3 linked regions of the Homo sapiens genome follow. The protein of the gene in region 1 interacts with the protein of each later gene in a biochemical or structural test. Each region holds a gene or a part of one and is shown on either strand. Other genes may lie near its edges. The genes, in order: DAPK1, FBXW11 and DENND1C.

Region 1 (2,793 bases):
GGGACCATGGTGGACGTCCCAGCCCTGATCAAGACAGACAACCTGCACCGCTCCTGGGCTGATGAGGAGGACGAGGTGATGGTGTATGGTGGCGTGCGCATCGTGCCCGTGGAACACCTCACCCCCTTCCCATGTGGCATCTTTCACAAGGTCCAGGTGAACCTGTGCCGGTGGATCCACCAGCAAAGCACAGAGGGCGACGCGGACATCCGCCTGTGGGTGAATGGCTGCAAGCTGGCCAACCGTGGGGCCGAGCTGCTGGTGCTGCTGGTCAACCACGGCCAGGGCATTGAGGTCCAGGTCCGCGGCCTGGAGACGGAGAAGATCAAGTGCTGCCTGCTGCTGGACTCGGTGTGCAGCACCATTGAGAACGTCATGGCCACCACGCTGCCAGGGCTCCTGACCGTGAAGCATTACCTGAGCCCCCAGCAGCTGCGGGAGCACCATGAGCCCGTCATGATCTACCAGCCACGGGACTTCTTCCGGGCACAGACTCTGAAGGAAACCTCACTGACCAACACCATGGGGGGGTACAAGGAAAGCTTCAGCAGCATCATGTGCTTCGGGTGTCACGACGTCTACTCACAGGCCAGCCTCGGCATGGACATCCATGCATCAGACCTGAACCTCCTCACTCGGAGGAAACTGAGTCGCCTGCTGGACCCGCCCGACCCCCTGGGGAAGGACTGGTGCCTTCTCGCCATGAACTTAGGCCTCCCTGACCTCGTGGCAAAGTACAACACCAGTAACGGGGCTCCCAAGGATTTCCTCCCCAGCCCCCTCCACGCCCTGCTGCGGGAATGGACCACCTACCCTGAGAGCACAGTGGGCACCCTCATGTCCAAACTGAGGGAGCTGGGTCGCCGGGATGCCGCAGACTTTTTGCTGAAGGCATCCTCTGTGTTCAAAATCAACCTGGATGGCAATGGCCAGGAGGCCTATGCCTCGAGCTGCAACAGCGGCACCTCTTACAATTCCATTAGCTCTGTTGTATCCCGGTGAGGGCAGCCTCTGGCTTGGGCAGGGTCTGTTTGGACTGCAGAAGCAAGGGGGTGATGTAGCCCATCCTTCCCTTTGGAGATGCTGAGGGTGTTTCTTCCTGCACCCACAGCCAGGGGGATGCCACTCCTCCCTCCGGCTTGACCTGTTTCTCTGCCGCTACCTCCCTCCCCGTCTCATTCCGTTGTCTGTGGATGGTCATTGCAGTTTAAGAGCAGAACAGATCTTTTACTTTGGCCGCTTGAAAAGCTAGTGTACCTCCTCTCAGTGTTTTGGACTCCATCTCTCATCCTCCAGTACCTTGCTTCTTACTGATAATTTTGCTGGAATTCCTAACTTTTCAATGACATTTTTTTTAACTACTATATTGATTGTCCTTTAAAAAAGAAAAGTGCATATTTATCCAAAATGTGTATTTCTTATACGCTTTTCTTTGTTATACCATTTCCTCAGCTTATCTCTTTTATATTTGTAGGAGAAACTCCCATGTATGGAATCCCACTGTATGATTTATAAACAGACAATATGTGAGTGCCTTTTGCAGAAGAGGGTGTGTTTGAAATCATCGGAGTCAGCCAGGAGCTGTCACCAAGGAAACGCTACCTCTCTGTCCCTTGCTGTATGCTGATCATCGCCAGAGGTGCTTCACCCTGAGTTTTGTTTTGTATTGTTTTCTGACAGTTTTTCTGTTTTGTTTGGCAAGGAAAGGGGAGAAGGGAATCCTCCTCCAGGGTGATTTTATGATCAGTGTTGTTGCTCTAGGAAGACATTTTTCCGTTTGCTTTTGTTCCAATGTCAATGTGAACGTCCACATGAAACCTACACACTGTCATGCTTCATCATTCCCTCTCATCTCAGGTAGAAGGTTGACACAGTTGTAGGGTTACAGAGACCTATGTAAGAATTCAGAAGACCCCTGACTCATCATTTGTGGCAGTCCCTTATAATTGGTGCATAGCAGATGGTTTCCACATTTAGATCCTGGTTTCATAACTTCCTGTACTTGAAGTCTAAAAGCAGAAAATAAAGGAAGCAAGTTTTCTTCCATGATTTTAAATTGTGATCGAGTTTTAAATTGATAGGAGGGAACATGTCCTAATTCTTCTGTCCTGAGAAGCATGTAATGTTAATGTTATATCATATGTATATATATATATGCACTATGTATATACATATATATTAATACTGGTATTTTTACTTAATCTATAAAATGTCGTTAAAAAGTTGTTTGTTTTTTTCTTTTTTTATAAATAAACTGTTGCTCGTTGCATTAGTTTTTTTGATCTTTAATTCAAAAGGATTTCTTTTTACTTGTTGTGGTTTTACTGTTGTCACCCCACATAGCAGGACAACCCAGTCCAAAACCTAGAAAATCATTACACCTCAACTCTCAGGGTTATTGAGATGCCGATTATTACTCAAATTAGGAATGGTGTGGGAAAGTGAAAAGAGTTCAGATAATTTTCACATTTCTTCCCATTGTAAATAAAACAGGCCCCTTAGATTTTTCTCGGGTGAACCAAAAAACCAAACTGACTCTTTTAGTTTTGGCAACAGGGAACAGAGGAAGCTTTGCGACTTCTACACAAAAATGATGGGGATGGCACCAGGAGGAAGAGAAAACCTACAGCAAAAAGACCTTCGTGCCTTTCTTACATTTATAGTTCATTTATGTTTCAAGCAAGTTGTCCACAATAAACATGATTAACTTTCATAATGAGAAAAGAAGTCCTGATGAATAAAATTAAAACTAGACATAGGTGTGTCTACAAAGGATGAGACTGAAAGGGAAAC
Region 2 (2,749 bases), on another chromosome or scaffold:
TTTGCACTTTGGTTTGATATTAAGAAACAGCATTCTTCTTCAGTGAAATTTTGGGTGCCAAACACCTACCCAGAATGTCCAGGGCTTTCATTTTCAAAAGTTAGCATTCTCCTTTTGACCGTCCAAGTCATTATGAATTCTGACTTGTTGTATTAGGAACATGTTGGACAGTGGAAAATTTTCTCTGGATTGTTTTAGTAATATTTTTGGGATTATACTTCCTTTCTGTACCAATTTCTTTTAATTTAAAGAACTATAAGTCAGTTATATTATCTACCAACAGGTAATATAGCTCTTTCTTTTATTAACTGTTCTCTGTCCCCCAACCATCTCCTGATATTTGGTAGAGTAACACCTTTATACGTGTGCTTGCCTCCTAATTTAAAATACTGTATTCGCATGTAGATATAATGTACATAACAGTTTAACCTCAAAGTTGCTGGAGTCAGGGCCCCCTGTGCTTGAGACACTAATACAGAGTGTGTTCGCACTTAGCCATGGGCTGGGCTCAAGAACCTGATACCTGGGTTGATGTGGATTACCTAGAACCCTTCCTGCAGTATTCATACAGTGTTTTTATTTTGTTGTTGTCATTGCGTGTGTGTGGTTTGTGTGTGTTTTTAATGAGAATCTTGTTTTAAAATGTAATTTCTAAGGTTTAACACCAAAATGTTTTATTTGTTGTGGAGTATATATTATACAATAGAGAGGTACCTTAAACATTTTTTGTTCTTATTCTTTTTCTCATAAGTACTCCTGAGTACAAGTGGTCACCTCCCATAGTATTCATTTGGCTTCGCTGTCAAAAATCATTATTCTGTGCAGTCGTGGCCCTGGGAAGGGGAAATAAGAAGGCCCTGTTGACGGGCTGTCTTGGCTCTGGAATTCATGCATCCTGGCCTTGCCAAGGTTCTGGCAGGGCCTGCTGGTGTGTTGGAGCCTGCAGGGCAGGTCAGGCTGGTTCAGAGGCCCATGCTGAGGGGTGGGTGCTCTGAAGTGGAGTGAAGCCTCAAGCCCATGAATGCCACCCCAGTCATCTCTGGTGTCAGCTGCTGCTGTGGCCCCAGCAGGTTCTCAAAGCTCCCAAGTCCTCCCTACGACACAGCCCAAATGTGTAAATGGCACTGTTGCCCTGACAGTGCATGGAAAGGACGTTGGCATCCAATTGGCACTCCTTCTCCCTTATTCAATATTAGGTTTGATTTGCCCTTCGCCATTGTTTCCAAAGATCAAGGAATGTCAATAACATTTTAAAGGACCAATAAACAGCCTCCTATAAAGTAAACCTCTTCCCGTGGAAGCACACTCTACTACTAAAGGGAAGGCCCTGGGCTCTGATTTGTCCTTTGCATTGAGAACGGTGTGGGGATCAGTGTGTGTGTATGTGATTTGTTTATTGAGTTGGCTTTGCTTTTTTAGTTTTTCTTTTAAAAATAAAATCCTTCCTTCCCATGTTACTAAATTAATTTATGTTTTTGAGAGGTTGAGTCTCAAAGTGTAAACAATAAACCTCCATTCATAAGGTGGATGTTGTAAGCTTGATGGTGGTTGTGAAAGTGATTTAGCTTTGACCACTTTTCATCCTACAGCTTCAATATCAAACTGGTTAGGAAAGCCCAGGGGGAAGGGAGGGGGCAGGGGAGGAGGCAATTCTGAATGAATGAATGGATTTTTTGTTGTTTTTGCATGTTTAATATAGAAGTTCCCCTCGTTCCTTGGGAGATGATGGCCTTTGAATATGCAGACAACCTTTGAATTGTGCCTACTAAATTATAGCAGGGGACTTTGGCACCCAAGGAGTTCTGACTTTCTGGGATTATAATAGTAATTCCCAGCCATACTCTGGACTTTATTTTGCTAACCATAACTGAGCAAATGTAAATTACTGCTATATTAATGTTTTAAAGCACTGGGATAGTCTAATTCTAACTTGTAATTAATTATGTTTGCCAATTATCTGTTTGAAATAAATTTGTGTCTGAACAGCTATTGAAACTGTTAAATTGTACAGATATTATTCATGACAGCTTTGTACTGTGGAATGTGCTTAATAAAAAACAAAAAAGTTTGACTTTTGTCCAGTAAATTGCTAAGTAATGTCAATAAATCGAGTATGGGTATTATGCAGTGCACCTAATCTGGCTTCATGCAATTGTTACTTCAGCTACTGATTCAAAGCCAATACTCTTAATAAAGTGTTGCAATACTCTGACGTTCTGTTAAGAAATTTTTCAAAGAAACTGTTAAGTGCTGTTAGGAATTCAGTGACATACAATTAAAATTTATAGATCTTTAGAATCATCTGTTCTGTAAAATGAGTTTGAAGGCAAACTGGTTTTGGCGTGTGAGAATGTTGTAGTAGATGATATGATTCCTTGTCTTGGGCTTTTGCCGAAAGCTAGCTTGAACTTCAGGAGTTAGCTGAGGGCTAGCTAAGAACTCTTGCCCTGCAAATCTGCTTCCCACACATAATTAATTGCTTCACAAGTTACTGTCAACATGAAAATGGCCTCTGAGACATCCCAAGTGGCTTTCAGGTGTGAGTGGATCCTCCCCTTCTTGAAGAAGGGCCATGGAGGTGTGAGGGGCAGTTTCGCAGCCCTCTCCACCATAGCATCAGAAATGAATAGTTTTGTGTGTGCAAGTGTGTCACTGGTAGAGTATTGAAGCAGAAAAAGTCGAGTTAGTATCTGTAGGATTCTACTCAGAAATTCTATTCAGTAGGACTGAGTAGAAGCTGAGTTTTTTT
Region 3 (3,759 bases), on another chromosome or scaffold:
TCTGGGTCTATTTCTCTGTTATTCTGTTTGTATCAATGGCTGTGGTCTCTGTGTAACTGTTTATTGTGTCTCTGTCTGTCTCTGCATTTGTTTGTTTGTTTGTTTGCTTTGTTTTTGTTTTTGTTTTTGAGATGGAGTCTCACTCTTTCACCCAGGCTGGAGTGCAGTGGCACGATCTCGGCTCACTGCAACCTCTGCCTCCCGGATTCAAGTGATTCTCCTGCTTCAGCCTCCCAAGCAGCTGGGATTACAGGCACATGCCACCATGCCCAGCTAATTTTTTGTTTGTTTGTTTGTTTTTGATTTTTTGAGACAGAGTCCTGCTCTGTCGCCCAGGCTAGAGTACAGCGGCGCGATATCGGCTCACTGCAAACTCCGCCTCCCAGGTTCAAATAATTCTGCCTCAGCCTCCTGAGTAACTGGGATTACAGATGCCCACCACCGTGCCTGGCTAATCTTTGTATTTTTAGTAGAGACTGGGTTTCACCATCTTGGCCAGGCTGGTCTCGAACTCCTGACCTCGTGATCCACCTGCCTCAGCCTCCCAAAGTGCTGGGATTACAGATGTGAGCCACCGCACCTGGCCTGTATTTTTTTTTAATTAGAGACAGGGTTTCACCATGTTGGCCAGGCTGGTTGCAAACTCCTGACCTCAAGTGATCCGCTTACCTTGTCTTTCTGCGCACAATGGGTGTGTAACTGTGACTAAGTTGTTTTTTTTTTTTTTTGAGACAGGATCTCACTTTGTTGCTCAGGCTGGAGTACAGTAGTGCAATCTTGGTTCACTATGGCCTCAAACTCCCCAGGCTCAGGCGATCCTCCTGACTCAGCCTCCTGGGTAAGCTGGGACTATAGGTGCGTGCCACCACCGCCAGCTATAATTTTTGTAGCTTTTATAGACACAGGGTTTCGCCATGTTTCCCAGGCTGGTCTCGAACTCCTGGGCTCAAGCGGTCCTCCCACCTTGGCCTCTCAAAGTGCTGGGATTATAGGCGTGAGCCACTGTGCCCGGCCTGGGACTATGATCCAGCTGTAGGACTCCCTATCTCTCCATGTCTGTCGTCTCTGGCTCTTCTGCACTCGGTTTGTCTGTGCTGATGACTTCCTGAGCGTGTAACTGTCTGTGTCTGTGTCTGTCTGTCCGTCCCTGTGCCTGTACTTCGTGCTCTTTGTCCCCATCCCTGGCCCCCCCACCGTCCACTTTACAGGTGGCTCCCTCTGGTGGTCCACCAGTGACCGTCCAGGCCAAATGGACCAAGGGAAAGAGACGGGGAGGCATTTCATTAATAGACAGACTGTGAATCTTGGCTGCTGCGGAGCGGGGAAGGAGAGATGAGGGCCCAGGCACGATGGGGGGAACCAGACACAGTCCAGCCTGGCGGGGACGGAGCTGGGGGTCTGCCTTCCCAGGCTGACCACTTATTGCCCACCCATCCCCAACATAATTAGCAGGCAGGATGCCTGGGTTTCTCACGGGGGTGGGGGCAGGGCCTCTGTCCGGGGACGTCACCCGTTAAACTTCCTCTCTCAGCCACACAGGAAGCTGAGCCGGCTTGGGGCCCAGCATACACAGGCCCCCAGGACCCCTGGGGAGAGGGCCCCGCTGGGCTGGCCCTGCAGGGACCATGGAATCCAGAGCTGAGTAAGAGCCACCCCATCCCTCATTCTCTGGTACAAGATTCCCGGGCCAGGCCTGAGCCGGGGCAGAGGGGAGCTGGGGCTGGAGCAGGCCCGGGAGGTGCAGTGACCTGCCAGGGCAGGTGGCTGGAATCAGATACTCCATGGGCCTCCGCTATGACCTTCACTCTGGGACAGGCCACTCTCGGTCCCCTCCTCTCTCTCTCTCTCTCTCTCTCTATCCAGCTCCTGTGATTATGTCTATAGCTCTGTGAATGCATGTACCCCTCTGAGCTTTGTCCTTGGTATGTCTGAGTGATGGCTTCAGGGGGTCCACAGGGCGGATGATCAGGGCAGAGGGGAGGCTGGGTGTTGGTATGAGTGGGTGATCGTGTGTGACTTGTGTCGGCGTGAGGGTGAAGTGCTGGGGTACCCATGGTGGGGACTGTGTGTGCAACTGGGCGGGACAGTGTGTGTGCAGCTGATCTCCCTCTAGATCTCCCTGTCTCTCTCCTTGAGCCCAAGGCTGCCTCTTCTGCTTGATATGGGGGCAGAGGAGGAAAGCAGAGATTGCAGGGCTTACAGTAAGTACCTAGGTATCCTGCCCTCCTTTCTCTGATGAGACATGTGGGACCAGCCACGAGGGTTCTATGGGGTCTCACACACAGAGACACACAGCCAGCCCACAAGGATCCCACGCGGTTACCCAGTGACACTCACAGCTGTACAGGAAAATATAGATGTCATTCACTTGCTCGGGCACACACACTCACATCTATACAAGAAAATATAGATGGCATGGCTAGATGCAGTGACTCAAGCCTGTAATCCCAGCAATTTGGGAGGCTGAGGCGGGCAGATCACCTGAGGTCAGGAGTTTGAGAACAGCCTGGCCAGTATGTGAAACCCTGTCTCTACTAAAAATATGAAAATTAGCTGGGCGTGGTGGCGGGCACCTGTAATCCCAGCTACAGGGAGGCTGAGGCAGGAGAATCGCTTGAACCTGTGGGGTGGAGGTTGCAGTGAGCCAAGATCGTGCCACTGTACTCCAGCCTGGGTGACAAAGCAAAACTCCATCTCAAAAAAATAGATAGATAGATAGATAGATAGATAGATAGATAGATAGATAGATAGATAGATAGGTGGGTGGGTGGATGGATAGGTGGGTGGGTGGGTGGATGGATGGATGGATGGATAGACAGAGACAGACAGACAGACAGATAGATGGATATATATATAGAGAGAGAGAGATGTAATTCACTTAGCTTGGGACTGCACGGGCTGTCCTTCATATCTGTGCAGTCTCATGCCACAGATATAGGAGACAGTCTCATCTTTTCAGGCAGACAGCAGACAGGATCACACACACACTGCCTGCTCACAAAAGCCATGCACTCAGCCACACACAATCATACACAGCCACACACACACAGTCACACTTTCTCACTCCATCCTGTACTTGTGTGTTCAATTAACACTGCTGCACACACAGCCTCACACAACCACACACTCACAGCCACAAACCCCCAGAGTCATGCACATGCCGACGCACCTTGTGGCACATGCACACACAACCACACTTGTGTGCAAAGTGGCAGACACAACCACACATGCATAGAAGCAAGTCTCTGGACCCCTTCTGCATCCCACAGAGGGGGCTCCCCTGCTGTGTTTGATTGGTTCTTCGAAGCGGCCTGCCCTGCCTCCCTGCAGGAGGGTGAGTTGGGAGCCTGGGAGTGAGGGAGTGGGAGGGGAGGGTGGGCCTGGGTCGCTGAACTTAGAGGCGTGCTCTCTTCTACAGATCCCCCCATCCTGCGGCAGTTCCCTCCAGACTTCAGGGACCAGGTATTCAGGCTGGCTCCTTGCTCCCCCAGGGCGAGGGCCAGTCTCCCAGGGGGAGGGGACTTGGTTTCTTGGACCTGGAGCCCAGGGAGGTGGTGCCCGACCTCAGTGGCCAAGCAGTCTGCGCTTTTCTTCACCTCCAGGAAGCTATGCAGATGGTGCCTAAATTCTGCTTCCCTTTTGATGTGGAAAGGTACGGAAGGGCGGGGAGATCCAAGGACTCAGGGACTCAGATCTCTCAGGGGCCCCAAGGACTCAACACCTAGAGACTCAGACATCTGGAAACCCATACACTCGAGG

The links.
Region 2: the proteins of DAPK1 (region 1) and FBXW11 form a complex in vitro, tested with the Homo sapiens proteins (one large-scale study listed by BioGRID and IntAct).
Region 3: the proteins of DAPK1 (region 1) and DENND1C form a complex in vitro, tested with the Homo sapiens proteins (one large-scale study listed by BioGRID and IntAct).

The regions. Positions count from the first base shown.
Region 1 is NC_000009.12:87,706,363-87,709,155, forward strand, and holds the end of DAPK1 (death-associated protein kinase 1), read left to right. Parts: coding exon 1-1,002; 3' UTR 1,003-2,272; downstream 2,273-2,793. UniProt on the Homo sapiens protein: Calcium/calmodulin-dependent serine/threonine kinase involved in multiple cellular signaling pathways that trigger cell survival, apoptosis, and autophagy.
Region 2 is NC_000005.10:171,861,012-171,863,760, reverse strand, and holds the end of FBXW11 (F-box/WD repeat-containing protein 11), read left to right. Parts: 3' UTR 1-2,212; downstream 2,213-2,749.
Region 3 is NC_000019.10:6,479,562-6,483,320, reverse strand, and holds the start of DENND1C (DENN domain-containing protein 1C), read left to right. Parts: upstream 1-1,533; 5' UTR 1,534-1,625; coding exon 1,626-1,642; exon of another isoform or gene 1,643-2,841; coding exon of another isoform or gene 2,842-3,269; coding exon 3,270-3,334; intron 3,335-3,418; coding exon 3,419-3,462; intron 3,463-3,602; coding exon 3,603-3,652; intron 3,653-3,759.